Homo sapiens: one gene and its partners. The protein of the gene in region 1 interacts with the protein of each later gene in a biochemical or structural test. Each region holds a gene or a part of one and is shown in the gene's direction. Other genes may lie near its edges. The genes, in order: GRB14, CHFR, TNKS2 and PDGFRB.

Region 1 (7,240 bases):
AACCCTTAAGTGGGTGGGACTGTAACTTTGTTTGGGGAGACAAAGAGGAGACTCTCTTGAGACCTTTATTATCAGGATGAGGTTTAAAGTCAGATCCCAAGGAAAAAACAGCCCTAGTGAAACTTCCAAGCTCTTTGAGAGTTGACTTTTTGGTTTGGATAGAAAATGGAAGTAAGGATAATAGATTTGACTGTGTGCCATGGTAGTGGAAAAAAAAAAAAGAGGCCGGGTGCGGTGGCTCACGCCTGTAATCCCAGTAATCCCAGCACTTTGGGAGGCTGAGGCGGGCAGATCACGAAGTCTGAAGATTGAGACCATCCTGTCCAACATGGTAAAACCCCGTCTCCACTAAAAATACAAAAATTAGCTGGGTGTGGTGGCCTGCACCTGTAGTCCCAGCTACTCGGGAGGCGGAGGCAGGAGAATCGCTTGAACCCAGGAGGCGGAGGCTGCAGTGAGCTGAGATTGTGCCCCTGCACTCCACTCTGAACGACAGAGCGAGAATCTGTCCCCCGCTGACACTACCCCCCCCCCCCCAAAAAAAAGATTCTGGCTTGTCCTTGAGCCAGAGTAAGAAAAGGAAATGTCTGATGATGACATAATGGTCATCTGGAAGAATTTAATAGGTAGTTCCCAAATTACTAAGGGCCTGCTATGTTTCTCACAAATCCTAGGCAGTAAGGACCCTAGCTAAGCAACAATACCATGCAAGATATATTTAAAAGATGGGGCTTTGATTTGGGGTTGTGGTAGCGGGTGGAGCCTGAACCAGAAGGAAAGTAAAGGGAAGGATATCTGGGCTGACTCACTTTAATGCTATGAATGGACACTTGCAGAATGCCTGTGTCTGAGAGATTTGTTGATGATGCAGGGTTTGTTTTGAATAGAAAGTGAGAAGAGGTGTTGGTATGCTTATGTTAGTATAGGGGACAAAAGAGAAAGAATGGGTAAAGTGCCAGGGTTAAGGCAGGATGTGCCCTAAGTGTGGATAGTCATCAGACTAGAGTAAGACGTCTTAGAGATTGATGACATTTCCTCAGATCAGGTTTAAACTGGAAAATGGGCAAAAAAAAAATAGCAAACTGGAAATGGGGAAAAGGTGATATTGTTATTGACCCCAATAGGTTTCCTGCTCTGGCCTTGTATCCTGTGTCCACAATGACCTTCTCAAAGAACACTGTACCCACACACACACCTGTACTGTTCCCTGAGCAGAGAGTCCCCGCCTGATTTTTAAAGATCCATCCCAGAGGGCTGTCCCTACCTTTGAAGGGCCCTTCTTGCTGATCTCTTCCTTGGCCCAATGGTTGAGATCTCTATGAAGACAAGGGTACCCCAAAGTTGAGGAGGAGGGAGGCTGCTTTTTACTTTATTTTATGCTTCCTTTTTCCCCCACCTAGACTTTGCATTTAGAACTGATCCTTTTGCTTTAGTTTCTTTATACACACTCAGTTCTTTGAAATGAGGAAGGTTTTGAGAATAGATGACTCTATGTAAGTGAGTCCCCCAACTCAGTAGCTTTGCAACACATATTACCCTTTTACAAGATGCTGTTTTTGGCCCAGTTTATCTGTAACCTTCAGTTGAGATGATGTAAGTGACTATGCGATATGTTCTACTGAGTATTATTTATGGTTGAAATATTATAGGAGAAGATGTCTCTTTACTTTATATTCTCTCTCATTTGTCCTGTTTAACCATTCCAGTCATTTTAGTGATTCTTTTCTCTCCACAGAAAAAGTGAAGAAAATAATTGTACTTGTTATTTACAAATCAATGACCAGAAAATTTGAGAGAATCCAGACTAAAAATGTTAAATTTCATCTGGCCTTTCAAAATCACAGTCAAAAACCATCTTACAAGTCATAAATTTTGTTTACTATTTGAGATGCCTACATAATGCATGAGTGGTAAAGTGCATTGAAGCCACAAATGGGATATGTTTTATCACTTTTTGCAAATAAAATGTCCCAAAGTGTACAATACTGTAGGCTTTCAGTACCATTATTTTTAAATGAAAGCTAGAGTGAGAGAGAATCCATATTCTTTTTTTTTTTTTTTTTTTTTTTTTGAGACGGAGTCTCGCTCTGTCGCCCAGGCTGGAGTGCAGTGGCACAATCTCGGCTTACTGCAAGCTCTGCCTCCTGGGTTCATGCCATTCTCCTGCCTCAGCCTCCCGAGTAGCTGGGACTAGAGGTGCCTGCCACCACGCCCAGCTAATTTTTTTTGTATTTTTAGTAGAGACAGGGTTTTACCGTGTTAGCCAGGATGATCTCCATCTCCTGACCTCATGATCCACCCGCCTTGGCCTCCCAAAGTGCTGGGATTACAGGCATGAGCCCCTGTGCCCCGCGAGAATTCATATTCTTTATTCCCTTTCCCTCTTTTTATAATGATGGCCAGATTTCCTAGGCATCTTTCTTTGTGTTTACTAATAAAGCAAATTTAAAGTATACCTTCCCTTACATACATGGTCCAGAAAAGTTACTTATATTAAAAGTGACTTCCATTATGAACTTAATCTCTTTTTTCTAATTTATGATTTAAATTTATAAGGAAATCATCTGTTAGTAATGAACCCTAAACACCTATTGTTTGAAGGAAAGCAAAGAGTTAGAAATCTTTATTTAGCTCTTGCAGCAGAATCAGTTCTTGTCTTTTTTGTTGACCCCTAGGTAATTTTTGTGCTTGGACATAGCCTGTGTAGTAGCTCTGGTTAATTGCTTCCCAGGACTATGTTGTACAACTAAGTAAGAATAAAGCCTCTGAAGGCTTTAGAGATTTAAAAAATGCTATGAAAACCAGTGTCATGAAATGTTTGAGTTGGATGGGATTTTTCAGATCTTCTATTCCAATATTCTTCTTTAGTGATACGTAAATTGAGTTTAAGGAATGCTATGTGGCACAGCCAGCACCTGAAATCTGGATTTCTTGAGGCTTTGACAGTCCCTTTTTAGGAAGGTACAATTTCTAAAGAAAGCAAGGACTGTAAATAAGAGTAGTATAATAATACATGTGTACCAGTGTTGTTAGTTACAACTCTCCTCATAACACAAGAAGAACAGGGGAGACAAACGCCATTTGTTAATATTCATCTAAGGACCTGGAATTCCTCTTTTTATTTCTTCCCGAAATGTAACTACGTTTTTTCTTCTAGCTTTCTTCTCCATCTTCTCCCTAAAATTGGTCTGAGAAATCTATCAAATATTTGATTTTATTATCAAATAAGATTTATTAGTATTATTAATAACCAGCTTTTGTGTGTGGTTTACGGTCCACAGGATATTATTTCATGGGAACACAAGAAAATGAGTATGTCACCTGCATTTTAAGATTACAAAAAGAGTATGCAAAAACTGGAAGGGATTTGCCCATGCTTCCACAGTTTAAATAAAGGGAGATCAAAAAGAGTATCATGTCTCAATGTGTCCTGTCCCTTACCACACTGTTTCTAGTGTATTCTTTATTAAATTAAGCCTTTTTTTGTATGTCTCAGAAAAATAAAAATTTATCTCAAATAATTAAAAAATTAGTTTTCCATATGCTCGGCCTTTTATTTCTTTTTTCTCTACCATGTCACGGACTTTCAAAGGATAAGCAGATCTCTGTCCCCAAATTAAAGGGCCTCTTATATCATTCCTTTGTGATGCCAGTAATTACCCCACTTTGGACATGCTGAACTTGTATGTGTGGTCCTATAGGAATCTTGTGTGGCTGCTACATTAACTGAAATTTCATATACTTATTTTTCTAGTATACATAGAAGTAAAAGAAGAGAAACCCATGTACATATTGTAGTTTTTCCAGACTCAGCAATTATCAAGATTTTGCCTCATTTACTCCATCTATTTCTTTTTTAAAAATTTTATTTTCTTTGCTAAAGTATTTTGAAGTATATCCTGGACACCCCATCATTGCATCTCTACGTAGTTTTGTATTCATCTCTGAAAAATGAATTTTCTTTTATATCCCAAATGCCATTATTCCCTAACATAAATAACAGCAATTCCTTGATATCGTCTAAAACCATTCATAATTGAATTTTCTCAGTTGGAATGGCTCATGAAATTCTCAAATTACAAACTGCTTAGCTTTCAAATGTCTGAAAATTAGCTCTTTGGAAGTTTAAATTCATTTTTAGATGGAAACAACATCATAAATTGTATTTAGGCCCTCTGAGCTATTTTACAAAATCCCATTTAATTGGAAACAAAACATATATGCAGAAAGAATGATAGAAACAATACTCTCTCCTATTAGGGTTTCAAACAAATCTATCTTTCCAACGGCAATTTGCTACTTTTGAGTGCTGTCACTTGATGAATATAATTTTTTGGGAGAATTTGAAAGCGTGCAGATCTTTGTAGCAGTGTTGAAGCAGGCTTTACAGCTGCGCTTCTCAAAGTGTGGTCATTAAATCACCTTCTTCAGAATCAGCAGGGATGCTTATTAAAAATATGGATACTTGGACCTCTTGCAAAACCCACTGAATAGGAATGTTCTGGGGGAGGTTATAGGAATTTGATTTTTTATATTTTTTTCTCTTTGATATGTATACAAATCAGTGCTACTCTTAATCTCTACCATTTTCAAACTGGGGCAATTGGACCTTTCAAAACTGAGGACAGTTGTGTTTTGTTGACAAAGGTGAGTATGTTACAAATGGCCTTTAGTTGGTATTTTAGCCAGGTATTGATTGTTCAGACAAAACAGAGCCTCAAATGAACCAGCCTGAAAGGCTGTGTTGTAGTACCTGAAGGCCAAAAGGTCACTGGTCTCATGAGAGGCTGAAATTGGGAGCAAGAAAGTCAGCAAAAATCAAGTCAACCACTTTCTCTATTCTCTCTCTTTTGTTCTCCCACAAACATACCACATAGTCTCTGCCTCTCCTTGCAAATTCACATCATTTTTGAGATTTCTTTGCAGTGTTGCTTGCCCTGATTTCATGTCAGTGCCAGCGGCCTCAAGTGGCTGCTCCCAAGTTTTCCACCTATTAGTGGTTCAGTACTTGGTAACTGACTGGGAACTGTATCTGGAGAGGTATGTTAGTCCAGTGTGTCCAGATCCTATTCAATCAGATGTGGCCAAGGGGACAGTGGGCCCTGGACCACTGTTCAGTCTGCAAGGGTGTGGTAACATGTGAGAAAGAGGTACAGGTTTAGTAGGTATGGCATATGGAGGCACTATGTCCTAGGGGCAGCTAGTGTCCTAGGGGAAAAAAAAGATCTCAAACAGGACACAAAAACTAATTCTAATCATATTTGTATGATATATGATGATCCACCAATTGGTTTATTTGACTTAACGTACCCAGTTCAGAGTGTTCAGCTCCTTTGTCTCAATTCACTTAATGTACGTGAAGCATACTTATTGGGCAGTTGTTTCAGTTGATGTCACCCTTCAGGGATGCTCAGCTTCCTTGTCCATTTTCCTGAGCTTACGTCTTACTGAGGTCCCTTAACCCCTGATGACAGGAATTACCAACTCAGGTTCCTTCCCACCTTATGCTAGTTACCTTCATTGTAGGAGAAGTTAGCTTTCTTTTCCTATTTTAAAACTTAAATCCCCTAGCAGATCTTCTATTTGTCAAGGTTTTATTTCTAGTTTGAAGGTTGCCTTTAATTTTTGGTTAATTTGCAGGGTACATTTGCAGTCCAAGCTTTATCTACAATATGGGTTTTCTTTTTAACGTTATTGAAATCTCAGCTTCTGGTTTGTTTTTCCCTGGGGCATATAATATGTTCTGTCAAGAGAAAGAAAATTGGAGTCATCATGGTTCAATATAAGTGTGGATTTTAATTAATATAAAAAAGATTTCTGCAGTCTTATGGATATTGCTTTGAAAAAACGTCAGCTTATGTCAAATAGTAATAAACTCTATTGTATAAGTATATGCTTATGTGTATTTCAATGGTGGTAAGCAGACCTGAGAATTGTCCTTTTGACATTACAGATAAAGGTCAGCTCAAGGGAGACCCCAGAGAATGGCCACAAGTCTTTGCCAAGGCAAGGGAGTAGAAAGAAAGGGTTCAGGATTAATTTAGAAGAGAAATGGCAGGACTGACATAGGGAGACCATCCTTTAATTCTTGTCCTTTTCTTTGGCCCACTCATTTAACATTTTTTCAAAGCCACAGAAAAAATAAACACAAATAGGAGGTTTAATATTCTTAACCAGCTTACAAATGCTTGTATTCCAGAAGATCTTTAATAAATTGGCCATTTATTCACATACATTTTTCCATAGACGTATTGTTACATGCAGTGGTTAGGTGGTCAGGCCAAAGCCTTAAAATCCATAATGGCTCCAAAGTATAGTGCTCTTACAACATTGCGTGTACCGTTTTTAAAATTGCTTCTGTGGAAAGATGTGTCAATATGATGTGACTGAAAGATATTGGAACAGGAATCAGCAAACCTAGTTTTTAATACAGTCCTACTACAGATGAGGGGTGTTATATCAGCCCATTGCTCACCCTTTCTGTACCTGAGAGCTCTACAATTTTATTGTATTCCTAGAGCAAGTGATTCTGATGGCTCCAGAAGCAGTAATGGCTCCTGTGCAGCAGATACAGGAGTCGTGGAAAGCAGGGTTTCTTTTGTTCCACTAGCCCTAGAAGCTCCCTCTTAGCCTCTGTTCAGGTATTCCCATATAGTGACCACACTTTTTTGTGATAAAGAGTATGTTTGGGGTGTCATAGGACAAAGAGCACAGGAGTCACATTCATGGAAATAATTGGGGCAGAAGGGTCTGGTTAAACTAGAAACTGCAGCAAAGTCATAGTTCAAATATTAGAAGAAGAATCAGAAAAGGAATCACATCTAGTAGGAGCCAGCTCAAGTGGTGAAGTTAAAGTACAGGACCAAGCATCTAAACTTAGAAATAAGGATACGAGATAAGATGTGACCACTTGAGGCCGGCATAGGTCCAATACACATTTGGCTCTACTTGGTTTAATAGGTACGGGGTGGTCGTAACCTCTGAATTCTCTAAATTTATCTTTCTCCACCCTCAAATCATTTATTTGATTACTTAAGCCAAAATTTAAGGAGTCCACTTTCTGTTCTTGTTAAGTACTGCTTCATCTTTCATCAAAGTAGGCTTGAATCTATATACATCTCCCCATCTCTGCTGCCACCATCCTAATTTAGCCATTGTCTTCTCACCTACAGGAGCCCCATAAATGGCCTCCTTTCTTCTGTGTTAGCTTATCTTGGTTCATTCTACATACACTTGTTAT
Region 2 (7,240 bases), on another chromosome or scaffold:
TGGCCACTTTCTTGCTGTGTCCTCACATGGCAGAGAGGGGGACTCTGCTTGCTCTCTCTGCCTCCTCTTAAGAGGGCACCAGCCCTGTGACATCTGATTCCCACCTAGTGACCTCATTTAACATTTATCAGCTCACAGGCCCCATTTCCAAATACAGTCACATTGGGGATTAGGACTTAAATATATGAATTTTAGGGGGGTACAGACACTCAGTTACAAACATTCAGTTCCTAACAGTTGTAGAACTTGATTATTTTATTTATTTATTTTATATATATATATGTATTTTTTTTTTTGAGACGGAGTTTTGCTCTTATTGCCCAGGCTGTAGTGCAGTGGTGCCTTCTTGGCTCAACCTCCAACCTCCCGGGTTCAAGCAATTCTCCTGCCTCAGCCTCCCGAGTAGCTGGGATTACAAGTATGTGCTACCACGCTCAGCTACTTTTTGTATTTTTAGTAGAGACGGGGTTTCTCCATGTTCGTCAGGCTGGTCTTGAACTCCTGACCTCAGGTGATCCACCCGCCTCGGCTTCCCAAAGTGCTGGGATTACAGGCGTGAGCCACTGTGCCCGGCCTGATATATTTATTTTTTGAGACGGAGTCTTACTCTGTCACCCAGGCTGGAGTGCAGTGGTGCGATCTTCACTCACTACAACCTGCATCTTCCAGGTTAAAGTGATTCTCCTGCCTGAGCCTCCAGACTAGCTGAGATTTCAGGCGTGTGCCACCACACCTGGCTAGTTTTTTGGTATTTTTAGTAGAGATGAGGTTTTACCATGTTGGTCAGGCTGGTCTTGAACTCCTGGCCTCAAATCAAATGATCCACCTGCCTTGGCCTCCCAAAGCGTTGGGATTACAGCCATGAGCCACCTCGCCCAGACAGAACTTGATTATTTTAAAGCAATGATGTGCCTGCCATTTATAAGGCATTATTTGGGGGAAAAGGGAAAGCCTAGGTAACGTGTAGGAAGGGGTGCAACAACCTTGTTTTCCCAAAGAGCTCTTTATCCAGTCTGGAGTGCAGTGGCACGATCTCGGCTCACTGCAAGCTCTGCCTCTTGGGTTCACACCATTCTCCTGCCTCAACCTCCCAAGTAGCTGGGACTACAGGCACCCGCCACCATGCCCGGCTAATTTTTTTTGTATTTTTAGTAGAGACAGGGTTTCACCATGTTAGCCAGGATGGTCTTGATCTCCTGACCTCATGATCCACCCGCCTCGGCCTCCCAAAGTGCTGGGATTAGAGGCGTGAGCCACTGCGCCCAGTCTTTTTTTTTTTTTTTTTGAGACGGAGTTTCACTCCTATTTCTCAGGCTGGAGTGCAATGATGTGATCTCGGCTCACTGCAACCTCCGCCTCCCAGGTTCAAGTGATTCTCCTTCCTCAGCATCCAGAGTAGCTGGGATTACAGGCACTCACCACCATGCTTGGCTAATTTTTGTATTTTGTAGAGACAGGGTTTCATCATGTTGGCTAGGCTAGTCTCTAAGTCCTGACCTCAGGTGATCCTCCCGCCTCGGCCTCCCAATGTGCTGGGATTACAGGTGTGATCCACCGCGCCCAGCCAAGAGCTCTTTATTCTAAGAGAGTGGCAGAAATGTACATCAACTGCTTGAAAGATTTAACCCACCAAGCGTCAAGCGCAGCAAATGCTGTGAATAGAACTTTAGCACAAAGCATCTCGGTTCCAGATTAGAATGCTGATATTCAGGCCAGGCACGGTGGCTCATGCCTGTAATCCCAGCAGTTTGGGAGGCCAAAACAGGAGGATCTCTTGACCCTATGAGTTTGAGACCAGCTAGGGCAACATAGACCCTGTATCTACAAAAACTTAAAAAATTAGCTGAGCGTGGTGGTGCATATTGGTAGTCTCAGCTACTCAGGAGGCTGAAGTGGGAGGATCACATGAGCCTGGGAGTTCAAGGCTGCAGTGAGCTGTGATTGCTCCACTGCACCACAGCTGGGGTAACAGCGCAAGGCCTTGTCTCAAAGAAAAAAAAAAAAACCTGATGTTCTGGCATGGAGACGCCTCTGTTACAAACTGGCTCTGGCGACACCGTGACTTGCACTGGTTTTGGGGCTTGAAGGAGACTGTCCTGGCAGTTAACGCTCAATGGAATGGGAAGAGCTTGACCACAGGTGATACTTGCCTTGGATACAGTACTTCCAATAGTACAGAATGTTTGCACAAATAAGATTTTTAATATCCGGTTTCATGGCAGTATCATTTACTTGTAGTAAAATTCACCTTTTTTGGGGTTCAGTTCCATGAGTTTTGGGAAATGTACTCACCAGTGCAGTCAAGATGTAGAACATGTTCGTCACCCTGAAAGGTCCCCCTGAGTCCCGGCTCCTGGCAGCCACTGATCTGGTTTCTTTGCCTTCTGCTGCTTCCAGCGTGTCGTGACACAGGGTCACAGGGTGTCTGCCATCATCTTCTGCGCCTGGCTTCTTTCCCTGGCACGCACCTTGTTGCATGGATGAGCAGTTTGCTCCTTTCTGTTACCGGGTAGTGTTCTGTGGTTTGGATGCACCATGGCTTGTTAGTTTACAACCAGTGGATGGACATTTATACTGCTTCCTGTTTTTGTAAGAAATAAAGCTAATATAAACATAAGTGTGCAGTCTTTGTAGGGACATACATTTTTCTCTTAGCTAAGTAACTATGAATGGAATTGCTGGGCCACGTGGCCAGTGTCTGTTTAACTTGCTGAGAAACTGCCGCATTGTTTCCCATGTGCTTGTCCATTTTGCAGTCCCACAGCACAGTACGAGAGTTCCAGGTTTTCCACTTCCCTTTTGGCCACTTGTAGGTGGTCAGTCTTTTTTTTTTTTTTTTTTTTTGAGACAGCGTCTTGCCCTGTCGCCAGGCTGGATTTGCAGTGGCGCAATCTCAGCTCACTGCAACCTCCGCCTCCCGGGTTCAAGCCATTCTCTTGCCTCAGCCTCCTGAGTAGCTGGGACTACAGGCACGTGCCACCATGCCCGGCTAATTTTTTTGTATCTTTAGTAGAGACGGGGTTTCACCATGTTGGCCAGGATGGTCTCAATCTCTTGACCATGTGATCCGCCCGCCTCGGCCTCCCAAAGTGCTGGGATTACAGGCGTGAGCCACCGTGCCCGGCCCGTGGTCAGTATTTTCAGCCAATTCTTATTTGGTGTGTAGTGGTATTTCATGGTTTTAATTTGCATTTCTCTGAAGATTAATGATGTTGAGCATTTTGTCATGTGCTTAATTTGCCATCCATATCTCTTCTTTGATAAAGTGTTTAAATTGTTTTAAGTTGCATTATTTACTTTCTATTTATTGAGTTATCAGAGTTCTCTATACATTCTGGATACAAGATCTTTGTCAGATATGTGTTTTACAAATATTTCCACCAGTCCATAGCTTGTCTTTTCATCTTTTTAAACAATATCTTTGAAGAACAGATTTTTACTTTTTTTTTTTTTTGAGATGGAGTCTCGCTCTGTTGCCAGGCTGGAGTGCAGTGGCACGATCTCAGCTCACTGCAACCTCCACCTCCCATGTTCTCCCACCTCAGCCTCTCAAGTAGCTGGGATTACAGGTGCATGCTACCATGCCCGGCTAATTTTTTGTATTTTTAGTCGAGATGGGGTCTCATCCTGTTGGCCAGGCTGGTCTCGAAGTCCTGGTCTGAAGTGATCCGCCCGCCTTGGCCACCCAAAGTGATGGGATTATAGGCGTGAACCACCGCCCCCAGCCTTACTTTTTTTGTTGTTGTTGAGCCAGAGTCTCGCTCTGTCGCCCAGGCTGGAGTGCAGTGGCGTGATCTCGGCTCACTGTAACCTCCGCTTCCTGGGTTCCCACCATTCTCCTGCCTTAGCCTCCCGTGTAGCTGGGATTATAGGCGCCCGCCACCATGCCTGGCTAAGTTTTGTATTTTTAGTAGAGACTGGGTTTCACCATGTTGGTCAGGCTGGTCTTGAACTCCTGACCTTGTGATCCGCCCGCCTCGGCCTCCCAACGTGCTGAGATTACAGGTGTGAGCCACCACGCCTGGCCCAGAATTGACTTTTTTTTTCTTTTTTTGAGTCGGAGTCTTGCTCTGTTGCCCAGGCTGGAGTGCAGTGGCACCATCTTGGCTCACTGCAAGCTCCACCTCCTGGGTTCACGCCATTCTTCTGCCTCAGCCTCCTGAGTAGCTGGGACTACAGGCGCCCGCCATCACGCCCAGCTAATTTTTTGTAGTTTTGGTAGAGACGTGGTTTCACCATGTTAGCCAGGATGGTCTCGATCTCCTGACCTTGTGATCCGCCCCCCCCTTGGCCTCCCAAAGTGCTGGGATTACAGGTGTGAGCCACGGCACCTGGCCCACATTTTACTTTTGACAAACCTCAGCTTATTATTATTATTTTTTCCTGGTTTGTGCTTTTTATATCCTATCTGCGAAGTCCATGCAAGACCCAACGGCACTAAGATTTTTGCCTGTCTTTTCCACTGGAAGTTTCATAGTTTTAGATTTTACATTTGTCTCTGTCTGGCCATCCTTACACAGCCACAATACTGTATTGTTTACTATAGCATGATGGTAAGTCAGTTAAGTAATATGAGTCTTCCAGCTTCATTCTTTTTCAAAATTGCTTTGGTTTTTCTACACGTTTTTTCTGTGAACTTTAGAATCAGCTTGTCAGTGTCTACAAGCCCTCTGGGATTTTGACTGGAATTGCATTGAATGTATGAAACAATCTGGAGGACAGCTGACATTTTAACAATACTGAGTCTTCTGATTCACACACCCATAGGTCAGTGATGGGAGCAAGGCTCAGGCTAAAGCAGATTCAGGGTGTCTTTCTGTGTGGAACGTTTAGGAAAAGTATGTTTGCATGCCACTGTCTCCTGACCAAACCCTTCGCTTTTTTGTCTTCTAGTATCTTTATGTATCCTTATAGATTATTATAGGCAGTAATGATTAATGATGAGATATTAAAACGCCTTTGTTCTTTTGATTTAAGGAGAGGGCAAGTATTGAGGATTTTCCCTCTTGCTTTTGTATTCAGGGCCGGGCGCTGGTGGCTCACGCCTGTAATCCCAGCACTTTGAGAAGCCGAGGCGGGCATATCACGAGGTCAAGAGATCGAGACCATCCTGGCCAACATTGTGAAACCTCATCTCTACTAAAAATACAAAAATTAACTGGCCCTGGTGGTGTGCGCCTGTAATCCCAGCTACTCAGGAGGCTGAGGCAGGAGAATCGCTTGAACCCGGGAGGCAGAGGTTGCAGTGAGCTGAGATCGTGCCACTGCACTCCAGCCTGGGCCACAGAAAGAGACTCCGTCTCAAAAAAAAAAAAAGAAAAAAAAAATCCCAAAGTGTCAGAATTACTGTATTCAGCTATAGATGCATCCCTGTATATAAGATGCAGTTTCTTATACGTGTACAAATGCCTATCGCAGGCCAGGTGCGGTGGCTCAAGCCTGTAATCCCAACACTTTGGGAGGCTGAGGCGGGTGGATCAAGAGGTCAGGAGTTCAAGACCAGCATGGTGAAACCCCGTCTCTACTAAAAATACAAAAAATTAGCTGGGTATGGTGGCGCATGCCTGTAGTCCCAGCTGCTCAGGAGGCTGAGGCAGGAGAATGGCTTGAACCTGGGAGGTGGAGGTTGTGGTGAGCCGAGATGGTGCCACTGCACTCCAGCCTGGGCGACAGTGCGAGACTCCATCTCAAAAAAAAAAAAACAAACAAAAACAAAAAAAAAAACAAATGCCTATCACAGTTGGCTCAGTCACTTTTTCTGTGACTGTCATTGCTTCAATTTTATGTTGATTTATGAAACCTAAGTTTACACAGAAAAGAAATTAAGGACTAAATTAAGATACTGAAGAATTACTTAAGCCCCTGAGTTTTTTTTTTTCTTTTTTTTTTTTTGAGACAGAGTCTTGCTCTGTCACCCAGGCTGGAGTGCAGTGGCGCCATATCGGCTCACTGCAAGCTCCTCCTCCCGGGTTCTCGCCATTCTCCTGCCTCATCCTCCTGAGTAGCTGGGATTACAAGGCGCCCGCCACCACGCCCGGCTAATTTTTTGTATTTTTAGTAGAGATGGGGTTTCACTGTGTTAGCCAGGATGGTCTCGATCTCCTGACCTTGTGATCTGCCCGCCTCGGTGTGAGCCACCGGACCTAGCCAACCCCCTGAGTTTTTTTAAAGTTCTAATAATACTCATCAGGTTAGCTGTGTATGCAAGCATATTGTAAAATTGCTTTTTTTTTTTTTTATTTCCAGTTGGAGTCTAGCTCTGTCGCCAAGGCTGGAGTGCAGTGGCGCGATCTCAGCTCACTGCAACCTCTGCCTCCTGGGTTCATGCGATTCTCCTGCCTCAGCCTCCCAAGTAGCTGGGATTATAGGCAACCGCCACCATGCCCAGCTAATTTTTGTATTTTTAGTAGATATGGGGTTTCACTGTGTTGGCCAGGCTGGTCTCGAACTCCTGACCTCGTGATCCATTCACCTCAGCTTCTCAAAGTGCTGGGTTTACAAGTATGAGCCACTGCGCCTGGCTGTAAAATTGCCATTTAAGAGGCTGTGTGTAACTGGAGGTATTGATGGGTGTCTTTGAGAGGGTGGGGATTCAGAAAGGTTCAGGATGGGCCGGGCGCGGTGGCTCACGCCTGTAATCTCAGCACTTTGGGAGGCCAAGGTGGGCAGATCATGAGGTCAAAAGATCGAGACCATCCTGGCTAACATGGTGAAACCCCGTCTCTACTAAAAACACAAAAAATTAGCCAGGCGTGATGGCGGGCGCCTGCAGTCCCAGCTACTCTGGAGGCTGAGGCAGGAGAATGGTGTGAACCTGGGAGGCGGAGCTTGCAGTGAGCCGAGATGGTGCCACTGCACTCCAGCCTGGGCGACAGAGCGAGACTCCGTCTCAAGAAAAAAAAAAAAATTTCTTTATGTCTTTCTTGGTCAAGTGTTTTTTTTTACATATGTACAATGGGGATCCTGAGTTGGAACCACATACTTTGGTAAACAAAGTGCAGTAGTGTTCACAGTTACCACGATCATATCCCGTGTTGACCCACCCTCTCTTTTTTAGGTTGCGACCTTTCCTTCCCCAGCAATAAACTGGTCTCTGGAGATCACTGTAGAATTGTAGTGGATGAAAAATCAGGTCAGGTGACACTGGAAGATACCAGGTGAGTATGTTCTGAGCTTCTTTTGGTGTTTCTTCTTGTAGCTTAAGAAGCCTGACTTCGTGCTCTGTGCTGTGTGCCACGGC
Region 3 (8,175 bases), on another chromosome or scaffold:
GGCCCAGGAGATTGAGGCTGCAGTGAGCCCTGATCACACCACTGCGCTACAGCCTGGATGACACAGTTAGACCCTGTTTCAAAAAAAACAAAACAAAACTCAGTAAAGTTACAGGATACAAAATCAACATACAAAAATCAGAAGCATTTATATATGCCAGCAGTGAACAATCTGAAAAAGAATTCAAGAAAGTAATCCCATTAACCCATTTATAATAGCTACAAATAAAATTAAATACCTAGGAATTAACCAAAGAAGTGAAAGATCTCTACAATGAAAACTAAAAAACATTGATGAAAAAAACAATTTTCAAATTTATACAGATCCACAAAATACCCATAATAGCCAAAGCTATCCTGAGCAAAAAGAATAAGACTGGAGAAATCACATTACCTGACTTATCAAAACAGCATGGTAGTGGTATAAAAACAGACAGACCTATGGAACAGAATAAAGAACCCAGAAATAAATCCATACATCTATAGTGAACTCATTTTTGACTAAGGTGCCAAGAACACATATTGAGGAAAGGACACCATCTTCAATAAATGTGCTAGGAAAACTGAATATCCATATGCAGAAGAGTGAAACTAGACCCCTATCTCTCACCATATACAAAAGTCAAGTCAAAATGGATTAAAGATTTAAATCTAACACCTGAAACTATCAAACTACTAAAAGAAAACACTGGAGAAACTCTCCAGGTCATTGGACTGGGCAAAGATTTCTTGAGTAATACCCCAGAAGCACAAACAGCCCAAGCAAAAAATGGACAAATGGGATCACATCAAGTTAAAAAGCTTCTGCACAACAAAGGAAACAATCAACAATGTGTAAAGACAATCCACAGAATGGGAGAAAATATTTACAAACTATTCATCTGACAAAAGATTAATAACCAGAATATATAAAGAGCTCAAACAACTCAAAAGGAAAAAAAAAAAGTCTAATAATCTGATTTAAAAATGGGTGAAAGATCTGAATAGACATTTCTCAAAAGAAGACATACAAATGGCAAATAGAAGAGGGCGCGGTGGGTCATGCCTGTAATCCCAGCACTTTGGGAGGCTGAGGTGGGCACAACACTTGAGGTCACGAGTTCAAGACCAGACTGGCCAACATGGTGAAACCCCATCTCTACTAAAAATACAAAAATTAGCCAGTCATGCTGGCAGGTGCCTGTAATCCCAGCTTCTCGGGAGGCTGAGACACGAGAATCGCTTGAACCCGGGAGGCAGAGGTTGCAGGGAGCCGGGATCGTGCCATTGCACTCCATCCTGGGCGACAGAGTGAGACTCTATCTCAAAAAAACAAAAAACAACAACAACAAAAAACCCAAATGGCAAATAGACATGTGAAAAGGTTCTTGACATCATTGATCATCAGAGAAATGTAAAAAACATTTTCTTTGCTCATCCAAAACTACAGTGAGATATCATCTCATCTCAGCTAAACTGGCTTTTATCCAAAAGACAGGCAATAACAAATGCCAACAAGGATATGGAGAAAAGGGAACCCTTGTACACTTTTAGTGGGAATGTAAATTAGTACAACCCCTATGAAGAACAGTTTGAAGGTTCCTCAAAGAACTAAAAATAGAGTTGTCATATGATCCAGCAATCCCACTGCTAGGTATATACCCTAATGAAAGCAAATCAGTATATTGAGGAGATATCTGCACTCCCATGCTTATTGCAGCACTGTCCACAATAGCCAAAATTTGGAAACAACCTAAGTGTACATCAGCAGATGAATGGATAAAGAAAACATGGTGCATATACACAATGGAGTACTATTCAGCCATAAAAATGTATGAGAGCTTATCATTTGCAATAACATAGATGGAAATGGAGATCATTATGTTAAGTGAAATAAACCAGGCAGAAAAAGACAAACTTTTCATATTCTCACTTATGTGGGAGCTAAAAATTAAAACAATTGAACACATGGAGATAGTAGAATGATGGTTACCAGAGGCTGAGAAGTGAAGTGGGTGGGGGATGTTTAATGGGTACAAAAAATAATTAGAAAGAATGAATAAAACCTATTATTTGATAACACAACACAGTGACTATAGTCAATAATAATCTAATTGTACATTTAAAAATAACTAAAATAGTATAATTGATTGTAATGCAAAAGATAAATGTTTGAAATGACTGATACCCCATTTACCCTGATATGATTATTAGGCATTGAGTGATAGTATCAAAATATCTCATATACCCAATAAATATATACACCTGTGATGTACCCAAAAAATTAAAAATTCAAACAATTTTAAAAATTAAAAATAGATATTTTGTTGCTAAAAAATGCTAACAGTCATCTGAACCTTCAGCAACTTGTCATCTTTTTGCAGTTGGAGGGTCTTGCCGCAATGATATCGAGGGCTGCTAACTGATAATGGTTGCTGAAGGTTGGGGTGGCTGTAGCAATTTCTTAAGAGAAGCTAAAATGAAATTTGCCACATCGATTGACTGTTCCTTTCACAAAAGATTTCTCTGTAGCATACAATGCTGTTTGATAGCATTTTACCCACAGAGCTTTCAAAATTAGAGTCTATTTGGGTGTTGAAACTTAATGGCAAAACAAACAAAAAAATAGAGCCTATCTCTCAAGCTCTGCTCCTGCTTTATCACCTATGTTTAAGTAACATTCTAAATTCTTTGTTGTCATTTCAAAAATTTTTACAGCATCTTCACCAGGAGTAGGTTCCATCTGAAAAAAATTTTTTTTTGCTCCATAAGAAGTAACTCCTCATCCATTCAAGCTGGTTTTTCTGTTTGTTTTCAGAGACAGGGTCTCTGTCACCCAAGCTGTAGAGGAGTGCAGTGACATGATCACAGCTCACCATAGCCTCAAATTCCTAGATCCCTCACATGTGCAGTTCACAATAGGGTTTGCGCTCCTGTGAAAATCTAATGCTGCTGCTGATCTGACAGGAGGTGGAGCTCAGGCGGTAATGCTCACTCCCCGCCCATCCCCACCCTGCCTCCATCCCCCGCCCTGCACCTTCTCTGCTCACCTCACGCTGTGCGTCCTTGTTCCTTACAGGCTAGGGACCAGTACCGGTCCAAGGGCCGGGGGTTGGGGACCCCTGTTCTAGTTAACTTGCTGCAGCTCCTACATCAGTATTTGCTGCTTCACCTTACACTTCTATATTATGAAGACAGCTTCTTTCCTTAAACTTCATGAACCAACCTCTGCTAGCTTTTAACTTGTCTTCTGCAACTTCCTCAGGTCTCTCAGCCTTCACAAAATTGAAGGCAGTTAGGGCTTTGCTCTGGATTCAGCTTTGGCTTAAGGAAATCTTGTGGCTGGTTTGACCTTCTATCCAGACCACTCAAACGTTCTTCGTATCAGCAGTAAGTCTGTTTCACTTTCTTATCATTCATGTGTTCACTGGAGTAGCACTTTTAATTTCCTTCAAAAACTTCTCATTTGCATTCACAACTTGGCTGTTTGGTGCAAGGGGGCCTATCTCAGCTTTCAACATGCCTTCTGCACTAAGATGAATCATTTCTAGCTTTTGATTTAAAGTGAGAGATACGCAACTTTTCCTTTCACTTGAACACCTAGAAAACCATTGCAGAGTTCTTAATTGGCCTAATTTCAATATTATTGTGTTTAAGGGAACAGATAGGCCCCAGGAGAGGGAGAGAGATGGCAGAGTAGCCTGTCAGTGGGGCAGTCAGAACATACACATTTATTGATTGATTGCTGTCTTCTATGGGTGTGGTTTGTGGTGCCTCAAAACAATTACAACAGTGATTTCAACTTATCACTGATCATAGATCACCATAGCAGATTTATGGGAAGAAAAATGATAAACGCAATCATATTGGTAGTGTTCTAGTCCTAGGTTCGTTCATGCATGTTCATGTTATTGATAAGCACCATAACTTCAATTTCATATGTATAAAAATGCTCAAAAAAGTGTACATCCTCTTTTAGCACTGTAGTGAGTCAACATTCCCCAACAAAAACTGGATTTCCTGAAAAACAGGTTAAGGTAGGAGGTTGGGGGGGGGATGCTTTTCAGAATGGCAAAGGTCAACATGTATCATCTTCTGTAAGTAAAATGTATGTATAGGCATACCTTTCTTTCAGTTTAAGACAAGGGGGTGTAGTGGGGAATTATCGTGTAAAACTACACCAGTATCTTAAGCATGAAAATCAATTATATGCTTTTCTTTTGTTTGTTGGTCAAAGAAAAAGATTATAACTCAGAAAACTTTCTTGGAGATGCGTATGCTCAGTGTATCCAAACTTTAGGCATGTCAGGTACAATATTGATTTACAAAAAGTTCCTCTAATCAATCCTGAGCTAATAACTTACTGTGGAAAGAGTAATTGATCAGAGCCATCCCTCCAATTGGAGTCAACTTCCATGACTGTTCGGATTTCCTTTATTTTGGGGGCAGTTCATCCAAACTTCTATTAAACGGCAACTAGTTCACTTTTGAGAAGTGGTTTACAAGAAACAACAACAACAACAACAAAGCAGTTGCGGAGGAAAGAAAAGAGACAAAGTAAAAAAAACGGAAAAGAAATCTCCCAGGAGAAAGGGATGTGGAAGCTGAAAACACGGACAATTTCCACAGTAAGACTTCCAAAAGAATGTGCAAGATCCGAGCAAAACTTTCAAGGGCTCTTTTTCAGTGTAATGGTAGTGAGAAAGTTCAGCCTGGAAAGCCCAGGGCTTAAAACAACAACAACAAAAAACACAATATGCAGGATCGTTCGGCTTCAGCAGAACCCACCGCAAAGATGGCGGTGGGACGAAGCCCCTTCTCCCGCCGCCGAAGCCTCTCGCCTCACATTTCCCACAAACCCTTCGCGCCGCCTCGCTAGCCGAAACCTGCCCAGCCGGTGCCCGGCCACTGCGCACGCGCGGGACGACGTCACGTGCGCTCCCGGGGCTGGACGGAGCTGGCAGGAGGGGCCTTGCCAGCTTCCGCCGCCGCGTCGTTTCAGGACCCGGACGGCGGATTCGCGCTGCCTCCGCCGCCGCGGGGCAGCCGGGGGGCAGGGAGCCCAGCGAGGGGCGCGCGTGGGCGCGGCCATGGGACTGCGCCGGATCCGGTGACAGCAGGGAGCCAAGCGGCCCGGGCCCTGAGCGCGTCTTCTCCGGGGGGCCTCGCCCTCCTGCTCGCGGGGCCGGGGCTCCTGCTCCGGTTGCTGGCGCTGTTGCTGGCTGTGGCGGCGGCCAGGATCATGTCGGGTCGCCGCTGCGCCGGCGGGGGAGCGGCCTGCGCGAGCGCCGCGGCCGAGGCCGTGGAGCCGGCCGCCCGAGAGCTGTTCGAGGCGTGCCGCAACGGGGACGTGGAACGAGTCAAGAGGCTGGTGACGCCTGAGAAGGTGAACAGCCGCGACACGGCGGGCAGGAAATCCACCCCGCTGCACTTCGCCGCAGGTAACCGGGGCCAGCGTCCCCTCGCCTCGCTCCAGACCCCACCTGCGCAGCCGGGGCCCACAGGTCTGAAACCAGTGCTCCTCCGCCTCCCGACCTTTCTCCAGGACTCTGGTCCTGGTGATCTCGCTCTCTTCCAGTGGGGACTAAGGAGATTAGGGGTAGGGTGAGCGTGCCACACTCGCTGGAAGTTTTTTGTTTTGTCTTGGTTTGGTTTTTTTGCCAGGTGTTGGGGGTGGTTTGGGGTTTTGGCTTTGTTTTGTTTTACAGTATCAACAATACCTGTACCAACTTCCGGTCTTGTTACCCTAGAAGGCCTCTACACACAAGAAAGAGTAGGGGACGTAGTTGATAGACCTTATGATTTAAAAGGTCAGTTACCTCCAAAATTTTTCGTTCTTGCAAGTTCCATTTGGGTTAAGGTCTTGAAGGACTTTGTAAAATACAAGGATGTAATTTAGGAGGAGTAGCTTAATAGGACGTTGACACATTAGCGTTAATTGGTTTATCAGAATAGCCAATCATTACCAAGTTTCTGGAGTGACTAGAACGGGAAATAGGCAAGTTTGGGAGAACTGAAACCTGACTTAGGCTGGGTGCGGGAAGCCTTAGACACACACACATACAAGTTGGGCGGAAAGTGGTAGTATAAGAGAAAAGATAGTGCAAGTACTTTAGCTTGAATCTAGAATTTAAGTTGGGACTAACCTTGCTTCATTCTGAAATTTAGATCGTTTGAATTACATTATTTTAATATTTATTAGGTTCACTTTATGATTTAAGCATATTAAATTTAGTCGAAAAATTTAAAAGAGCCATAGATGGGATATTCAGCTTATTCCCATAAAGCATGCATGCTGTTCACTTGTAGGAAAGATGATGACTGTTTCTAACTTCAGGTGAGTCATGCGTGATTGAAAATGGGAGTACCTCCTCTTACCTCTGACAATCCTGGTTTTTTGTTTTGTGTATTTCATGATTGTTTAAAACAATTTTTTGAAAAATCGGGGAATACCTTTTAAAGTACTCCTGTTCTTTTGGGGCTAGATTGATGAAGAGAAAAGGAGCAGTGAGAAATATTTCCTCTTTCACAGATATTACTTTTACACTTTCTACCAATTGGAGATTTGTTCGCTTTAACCTGTTCCAGATTTTAAATGTAAATACTACCAGGAGGTATGCTTTTTTGATCAATTGCACCTTTGTTGGATTTCCATTGGGGAGTCTTTTAAAAAGAAGAAAGTTTAGGGAACCTAGGTGGGAGAACTAGAAACGGTTTGTGGGCAATGGAAAGAGAAGGAAGAATACTTAAGTCAAACACACCTAGTTAGCCTTTTTGCCCGAAATTTCGGTGGTAAGTGCTGCCGTTCTTCAGCTAATTTAGGTTGTCCTGTTTGACCATGTAGTCAACATTTAAACAACTCATTTGGCAAACTGTCACGATCAACTGATACATAAGCCAAAGGGTAGGGTTACTTAGATTCTGTTCACTTGATCTGTGGGATAAAAATAACCAAGAAAGATCTTAGTTGCTACCTTTCAAGAATTTGGTGTATTAGTGAGTTCATATCTGAAAATAGTAATATTTAGAGGTGTAAGATTATGTTATTAGATCCTCAGTGACCTTGTTCCTTCTCTGCCTTCCCACCTTCAGTTCTGTCCCAACGTTTCAAAGCATATTTTTTACATAGGTTTCATTTTGTTCAAGTTTGGAAGACTTAATATTTTGGAAACCAACCCACCCCTCACAACTTACCCAAATTATCAGGTATAGGTTATCAGATTAAGAGTTAAAGGTATAAAAAGGGAGTAATAAAAATTATGAAGTGGGGGTTCTTCATTCAACCAGAGCTTTTGAAGTCCTGCACTTCAATCATATAAGAAACTTTTTTAAAAATTGGGTTTGTAAATTTAATCTGAATTTTAGGTTCATCAGAGAGAAGCTTTTTAAGTGCATCCAGCTACCTTTTCACTTAATATATGGAGAATATACTTTATAATCTGTTGTAGGTAGTGAGTTATCAGTCATGTTAATGTGCCTGCAAGCATACTGTTGGAAGTTCAACACAGGTGGTGGTATTATGTAACTGCCTGATCAAGCAGTTTCTTGTGTTTGTACTTCAGTCATAGAGTGAGCTATTGGAGGTGATGGGGGACATCATTATTTTAAAATTTTTTTAGCTGATTAAAGTTTGGAGATTTTACTGGGGGAGGCATGTTTTTGTCTTTTTGTTTTGATTCCCAAGTAATATTAGGACTGAGAGATTCGTGCAGACCACAGAAAATGAAAATTAGTTTAGAAAACATTTGCTTTAATTTCATCCCCAAAAGTTAGTTCAATTAAAAGAATAATCCGTTGCTAGCACCAAGAGAGTTAAATTCTGTTAATGAAGAAGATAGTCAACATAAACAGGAATTTTCCTTCTACTAGGTGTTTTTTTATTACTGAACTAGATTGCATACTTTTCTTCTAGATAAATATTATTTAAGAAGTAATTCCTTAGGAGAAAAATGACTCTGTAAATTGTTTCCTTTTCAGTCCGCCTGCCACTGCCCCCGACCATACGCAGATATACACAAGACAGGAATTTTTCTTTTTTTTTTTGAGATGGAGTCTAGTTCTGTCTCCCAGGCTGGAGTGCAGCGTCACGATCTCAGCTCACTGCAACCCCCACCTTCCGGGTTCGACCGATTCTCCTGTCTCAGCCTCCTAAGTAGCTGGGATTACAGGTGCGCACTGCCACGCCCGGCAAATTTTT
Region 4 (7,240 bases), on another chromosome or scaffold:
CAAGGTGCTTACCACAGTTCCTGCACTTCACAGCTGGACCTCTGGCCACTGGCTGAGAGAACCACTGCTCTCCTGGCCTCCTGCATTGGAACACTTGGCTGTGAAATTAATCTGCAACCTGCAAAAGGCTCTGCCCACAGAAGGGACCTGGACACCATGTATGTTCCAAAGATCCGTGTCCATCCTCCAGGCACAGGCCACAGTCTGACTCTGAGACCAGCTGCCTTCTAGGCTAAAGGAGGGTGCTCTGGGCATTGGCTCAGAACAGGCTGCTGCTGAATGCAGTGGGAAGGGAGAAAGGGATGAAAAGGTCTTCTGAAATGCCCACCCATTTCTTGCATTTGATTCAGAACCCAGTGGGCAGTGGGTTCTTGGAATGGGAATCTTTTTGGTGCCCCCTGTCTTCTGACCCAGAGCGTTAGGAGGGAAGGGAAGGGGTGTTGGGCCCCTTCCCAGGGTCAGGGCTTGTAGCACCTCAGCTGGGAAGCAGTGTGAGCATGATGATATAACAGGAACCAACTCGTTCTTAGCACTTTCTGTGTCTACTTCAATTGTGCTTTACATCTGTTACCTCAAAGTTGCTGCTGTATTCCTCAGCACTTGGAACATGCTGGGCATTCAGGACATTCTTAGTAAATATTTACTGGATTAATTTAACCATCGAGGCTGGGCACGGTGGCTCACACATGTAATCCCAGCACTTTGGGAGGCCGAGGCGGGTGGATCACCCGAGGTCTGGAGTTTGAGACCAGCCTGGCCAACATGGTGAAACCCTGTCTCTACTAAAAATACAAAAATTAGCCAGACGTGGTGGTGCGCACCTGTATCCCAGCTACTCAGGAGGCTGAGGCACTAGAATTGCTTGAATCCAGGAGGCGGAGATTGCAGTGAGCCTAAGCGACAGGGCAAGACTGTCTCAAAAAAAATAAATAAATAAATAAATAAACCGTCACAGCAACCTCAAAATTAGATATATAAACTCTCCCCACTTTTTTTTTTTTTTTTTTTTGAGATGGAGTCTCACTCTGTTGCCCAGGCTGGAGTGCAATGGTATGATCTTGGCTCACCGCAACCTCCGCTTCCCAAGCTCAAGTGATTCTCCTGCCTCAGCCTCCCAAGTAGCTGGGATTACAGGCGTGTGCGCCACCATGCCCAGCTAATTTTTATATTTTTAGTACAGATGGGGTTTCACCGTGTTGGCCAGGCTGGTCTCGAACTACCTGACCTCAAGTGATCCGCCTGCCTCAGACTCCCAAAGTGCTGGGATTACAGGCGTGAGCCACCGCACCCAGCTAAACTCTCCCCATTTTACAGGTGAGAAAGTGCGCAGAGTCAGTTGCCTAAAGTCCCACAGCTCGGAAGTGGCGGAGCTGGGATTTGCACCTGGGTGTTTCTGACTCCAGATCCCCTTGATGAGAGGCTGGATGGGGCCTGGGATGCCCCTGGGGATCCAGTGTAAACCCTGAGAATGTGCCTCAGCTGTGGGGGCCCTCAGCATTCCAGAGGTAGTCATCAGACCCTAGAACCCTATGGGACTGTGCACAGATCGTTCCCTTCTGGGGCCTCAGTTTTCCCATCAGTCAAACGAGGAGGTTGACCCAGATGATGGTAAATCTTTCTTCCAGCCCTAAAACAATTTCAGGATTCCAAGCCATGCCAGCCCAGATTGGCAGCTGCACAAGCCTTGCTGTGTACTCAGGGATCATGCATATTTAATTTCACAATGAAAGGGTTTTTTTCTTACCCTTTTTCTACACATTACAGAAAGAGGTCAGGATCGATGACCACTAATGGAAAACTTTAACCTGCAATAACAATGAGGAACTTTCTGACAATTAGTGTGGCCCCTTAACGTGCTCAGTTTCTTGAGGAGCTCAGAGGGCTCCTACAGTTCCCACATGCCCATTTTCCTGAGATACTGAGCAGGGAGGGTCGGGGAGGAAGGCCCACTAGGGGCTGTGTGTGGATGCTGTAACCCTTTAGGTCTCTTCCAGTGCTGCGTTTTCAAACCTCATATGCTCTAATTTCAAGAGGAAGCAAGGCTTTGGCCCAGATGAGTGATGGGATCCAGAGGTGAGGGGGGGAATGGACACAGGGACCTACCTCTGGTGGGAGTGGGTGTGAAATTCCCATGCTTGTTGCTTCCAGTGTGGAAGCCCACTTCACATCCCTCCTGAGCCCTCAGGCCCAGATCCTCAGGATAAAGTCTTCCTGAACCTCCAAGCCTTAGCCCCAGAGCCCACCCTGCCCCCGCCCCCTACATCCACCAGATGCTTCCTGGGGTAGCCCACCCCCAGCCTGGTGCAGGAGGCTGAAAATCAAAGTGTACTGCTTTAACCGCATTAAAATCCCCTCCTCTCCTCAATTCAGATCAGGGCTATTTGATGTCTCAGGTGCCTGAAACCTTTTATCTGCCAGAGGTACCAGCTTCTCCGCCCTGTGATGGAGAGGGCTGTCCCTTGGGAGGGTCAGGGGGTCTGAAAGTTCCTGAATGTCAGAGATGAAAAGGACTTTTGGGGGTCACCTGATCCAACTGCTTTATTGTATGGATGGGAACTAAGGTCCAGAGAGGGGAAGGGTTGCACCTAAGGTCCGTACAGATCATTGGTGATGACGCTGAGCCTGGGACCTGGGCTCGCCTTTGTTCCACCACAGGTGCTGGGTCTTTACCATCTCTCTGAAGGCCTGGAGAGACCCAGCTCCACCTCTGTGGTTCAGGGCTCAGCCTCCAGGTCTGTCTGGGCTATGGGCTGAAAAGGAGCAAAGCCGTCCCAACAAGAAATGGGAATCTTCCTGGGTGGTTTGCTGGACCCCCGAGCTTTTGGCCATACCACTTCTTCATTCTAATCATAGTTTCCTCTTATAATAAAGTGGGGAGAAGCCAAGGGAGAAGTTTAGTGGCCCCCAGAGGTCCATCCAGCTCTGCCCTTAGCCCCTGAGAGTTCCTACCATGCTTCTTGTGACTGTTTTGCCACATCCTCATTGCTGCTGCTCTGTTACCTTCCCTTCTGAGAAGTGGAAACCCAAGGGCAGTGACACCACCAGCTTCTTCACTTCTGAGGCTGAGCCTCAGTGGTTATAGGGTGGGGCAGGGTTTCCAGTTAGCCTTAGAGGGGTAGGGCTCAGCTTTCTAAACATGTCACAGAAGCCCTGGCCCCTCCTGGCCCAGAGCATTGAAGGTAAAGGTGCAGGTTTGACCTGGTGGACTGTGGGTGGCTCCCATCTCACCTGTATTTGTGTCCTTATCAGTGTCCAACCCAGGGCCTATCTGCTGAATGGATAGTGAAATAATCACTAGATAAATAAATGCATGTAGAGATGCATAAATGGATTGGTGGGTGGGTGGATGGATGGATGGATGGATGGATAAATCGATGGAGACAGACAGATGGCCTCCCCTTTAGTCCAGGGCACAGAGATGGCTTCATGAGTACTCATCCTCCTGAGGGCCCCATGCTTAGAAGGGCCTATGTTTGGTTTAATGCTCTGCAGTCATCATTTTGAAATTGTTAATAATTTTTAACAAAGAGCCCTGCATTTCCATTTTGTGCTTGCCCCACAAATTATGTAGCTTGTCCTGCCAGGGAGTTCAGGCTGAGTTTGGGACGGCTTCATCCCCAACACTGGCCTTGCAGCCTCCACTGTCCCCATCCTAATCCACAGCCTCCCACTAAATGCCAGCCTGCTGGTGTCATCCTCCTGCATGGAGGCCCCCTCCCCACAGTGCCTGGAGTTACAGCATTGCCCTGCCAAGCCAGCAGCTACTACCCGCCATCACTATCAACACCTTGAAAAGTTGGTGGTCCAGAGAAAATCCTCACACAGCACCGCAGACCTTTCCTGAAGTCTCCCTGCCTCCTTCCCTGGCCTCCTGCTGCCTCCTTCCCAGGCCATCACCTACCTGTTTGCTGAAGAGCCCCAGTTTCTAGCCCAACAGATCTCTCCCTGCCATTTCTCCCAGATGCCTTTCATCTCTCACAGAGCCCTGGCCATACCTTTCCCTGGCATCATCTGCCAAAAAACTCAAGAAACCCTGGAGGCCTAGCTCAAGGCCACCTCCCTCAGGAAGCCATACCCGCTCTCCCCACTGGAGTAATCATATACTGTTGTTAGTCACCATTTACTGGGCACCTATGATGTGCCAAGTGCTGTGCGTCATCATCTCTGGCCCTCCCAGAAATGGAAAAGGAGGTCTCCCATGCCATTTCCCAGGAAATTGGGACTCAGATAAGTTAAACTCAGAGAACTGGGGCTTGGACCCAGGAATAAGTGGCTTCCAGCTGGAACCACTGCTCCCAGCCTGGCGGGGCTCCCATCCCTGCCCTGGATGGCATCAGGCGCAGCCTGTTGGCTTCAGAGTGCCATATGTCTGTTCTGCCCTCACCAGCTCATCTCCATCACCTCCCTGGAAGGAAAGAGTCACCATTGCCTATCCATGCCAGTTCCCTAGCCTAGTGAATCCTGTGTTATTAGGAGGCAGCCGAGGGCCCAGGACTGAAGAGCTGACCCTACAGAGCCATTTAATCTCTCATATCGTGTAAGCGTTTACTGAGCACCTACTGTAGGCCTAATTCCATATTAGGAAGTTGAAGAGAGTCCAGATCGTTGTTAGGTAGGTATCCTGATTTGTGGGAAGTCATATTAAAGGACTAAGACAAAAGTTCAGGAAAGAAGTAATTGACAGACAGTGGTGATTAGATGGGTCTGGCCTTAGGTTGGCCACCGAATCGCCGAGTGTGCTAGGATGAGACACTCCTCACTGAGCCTCAGGACACTGAAAAGGGCTGTTGCTACTGATTGTACCAATAATCAGCAGCTACCTCTTCCTGAGGAGCGTCTTTTGGGAGAGGCCTTCTTGCACCGTCTCATTTATCACATGCATCACTTTGCTGAGAAGCCTAGTCCCGTGGAGTCTTGGCTGTGCGCGCAAGGCCGAGTGAGTGAGTGACTTCTTCTCCCTTGAGTGAATGAATAATAATAATGTGGCCACCAACTTTGCAGAGGGCTGTGTGCCAGGCCCTATTCTAAGCATTTTGCTTGTGTTAACTCCTTCAATAGCCCTGACAACCCAGTGATGAGCCCCAATCTACAGATGAGAAAACTGAGGCACAGAGGGGTGGTTAAGTGAATGACCGAAGACAGGGGTGGGAGGACAGATGCTGAGACAGTGAGAGGGTCAGTGAAACATGGGGGTTCTCTGCCCTCCTGCTCTGCCGCCCAGGAGGGCTCTGAGGGGAATCTCAATGTTTGGTAATTGGCACTGATAAGTGAAGGGTTTACTCATTAGCTAGCTACCCCTCCCCTATTTGCAGGCCCTGGGCCTGTGGGGGAAGGCTGTGTGCTGGTGGGTCAGTGTGAATGGCCCAAGGCCTGCCTGTCCCCTGCCCACTTGGCTCTGAGAACCCATTCTATTTGCGGCCCCCACCCCAGCCCATGGCTGCTCCGGGCTGGCAGCAGCCCGGGGAACAGAAGGTTTGCTTGTCTGCGCCTGCCGCACCCCCCTCCTCAGTCTCAGCCTGGGACCCCTCTCAGGGGCTCCTTTGGCTGCCAAGGGCCTGGCACTCCCTGTTGCCATGGCACCGGCCGGAGATGAGGCTCTGGGGGGTGGGGATGGGGAGGGCAGCAGCAGGATGGTGGAGGCCTGGAACTCTGCAGCTACAGAGGCCCTGGCCCTCTGCAAACAGTGGAAGGGGGTGCTGGGGCCCCCACAGGGGCAGGCCTGGACCCTGTGCACAGCAGGCCTGTGGCAGAGCCGGCCACACACCTGGGCTGATTGCCTGGATGCTGTATCCCGCAGGAGCACTGCCCCTGCCAGACCCTGGCTTTCCTAAGCAAAAACTCTCTCCTCAGCCTTGTGTGCTCACCCTCAGCCTCTGCAGCGAAATTGTGGAGTTCTATCCCTAGTCCTGGGTTCTATCCCTAGCTCGACTTTAAAATTATTGGTGACCCGGGGCAGGCCTCCCGCATACACTGCCCCTCAGTCAGAGCAGAGGCGGGACCCAGATCCCTGAGGATCTTCTCATCCCTGAGATCCTGGATTCCGTATGGACGCCATTAGAGGGAGAACGTTTCTCTGTGGACAGATGGACAGAACTGTTTCTGGTCAGGAGACAGACAGTCTGGCATGACGGGCAAGAATTCAGGTTTTGGCAGTTGTGGTGATGCGCACCTGTAGTCCCAGCTACTCAGGAGGCTGAGGCGGGAGGATCACTTGAGCCCAGGAGTTTGAGGCTATAGTGAGCTGTGAGCTATGATCATGCCACCACACCACTGTACTCCAGCGTGGGCAACAGAGCGAGACCCTGTCTCTAAAAAAAAGAAAGAATATAGGCTTTGGAGTCAGGCCGGCCTGAGTTTGCATTCCCGTTCCTTTGCATCTTACTTATTGTGTGACCTTGGGAAAGTTACCAAAAGTCTCTGAGACTCATCATTCTCCTCTGTAAAATGGGAATAATGAGTGTACCCCCCTCACAGGGTGGTCGTGAGGATGAAACAAAATCTCCAGATCATCTCATTTAGCAGAGTGCCTGGCTCTAAATTAGTAGGGACTTTTGTTTGTTTCCAGATTGGGGGGGATCAGAACAATAACTAGAAAGATGTCCTGTATTTGGGGAGAGGGTGGTTGGTGGATAGAAGCAAGACCAATAAGCAGAGAATACAGTGAGATAAACTGTACTCAGTGTAATTAACAATTCTCAATAGTCTGCCCTCTGAAGATTCTAAGCTGGCTAAGAATGAAATGGGCCACAGGTGAGGTGGTGAGAGCCCTGTCATGGGAGGTGTGCAATTGCAGAGAAGGTGGGGGAGATGTGAATAGAGGGAATGTACTAAGACTGTAGGGCTCTGTGAAAAATGGAGTGACTGTTTCCCACTCAAACTGTCAGCTTCAGCTTTACCCAGCTCAAAAGACAGCGTGAAAGAGTGAAAGGAGAAGTTGGGACAAAGAAGGCGAAAAGATAAGGCTGACGACTTTATTTTTTAATTTATTTTTTTGAGACGGAGTTTCACTCTTGTTGCCCAGGCTGGAGTGCAGTGGCGCGATCTCGGGTTCAAGCAATTCTCCTGACTCAGCCTCCCGAGAAGCTGGGATTACAGGCTCCCTCCACCACGCCTGGCTAATTAACTTTTATTTTTTTTTATTTGAGCTTGTTCTGTGCCAGGTACTGGGCTGTCCTTTTTGCGGGGCTCCTTATCTTTGCCTCCTGCCACAGAGGGGCTGTCTCATGGGCATTGGGCTGTG

Evidence for each region.
Region 2: the proteins of GRB14 (region 1) and CHFR form a complex in vitro, tested with the Homo sapiens proteins (one study listed by BioGRID).
Region 3: the proteins of GRB14 (region 1) and TNKS2 form a complex in vitro, tested with the Homo sapiens proteins (one study listed by BioGRID).
Region 4: the proteins of GRB14 (region 1) and PDGFRB form a complex in vitro, tested with the Homo sapiens proteins (one study listed by BioGRID).

Annotation. Positions count from the first base shown.
Region 1 is NC_000002.12:164,611,257-164,618,496, reverse strand, and holds part of GRB14 (growth factor receptor-bound protein 14), read left to right. Parts: intron 1-7,240. UniProt on the Homo sapiens protein: Adapter protein which modulates coupling of cell surface receptor kinases with specific signaling pathways. Binds to, and suppresses signals from, the activated insulin receptor (INSR). Potent inhibitor of insulin-stimulated MAPK3 phosphorylation.
Region 2 is NC_000012.12:132,877,472-132,884,711, reverse strand, and holds part of CHFR (E3 ubiquitin-protein ligase CHFR), read left to right. Parts: intron 1-7,057; coding exon 7,058-7,157; intron 7,158-7,240. UniProt on the Homo sapiens protein: E3 ubiquitin-protein ligase that functions in the antephase checkpoint by actively delaying passage into mitosis in response to microtubule poisons.
Region 3 is NC_000010.11:91,793,471-91,801,645, forward strand, and holds the start of TNKS2 (poly [ADP-ribose] polymerase tankyrase-2), read left to right. Parts: upstream 1-4,955; 5' UTR 4,956-5,220; coding exon 5,221-5,419; coding exon of another isoform or gene 5,420-5,482; intron 5,483-8,175. UniProt on the Homo sapiens protein: Poly-ADP-ribosyltransferase involved in various processes such as Wnt signaling pathway, telomere length and vesicle trafficking.
Region 4 is NC_000005.10:150,145,631-150,152,870, reverse strand, and holds part of PDGFRB (platelet-derived growth factor receptor beta isoform 1 precursor), read left to right. Parts: exon of another isoform or gene 1-532; intron 533-7,240. UniProt on the Homo sapiens protein: Tyrosine-protein kinase that acts as a cell-surface receptor for homodimeric PDGFB and PDGFD and for heterodimers formed by PDGFA and PDGFB, and plays an essential role in the regulation of embryonic development, cell proliferation, survival, differentiation, chemotaxis and migration.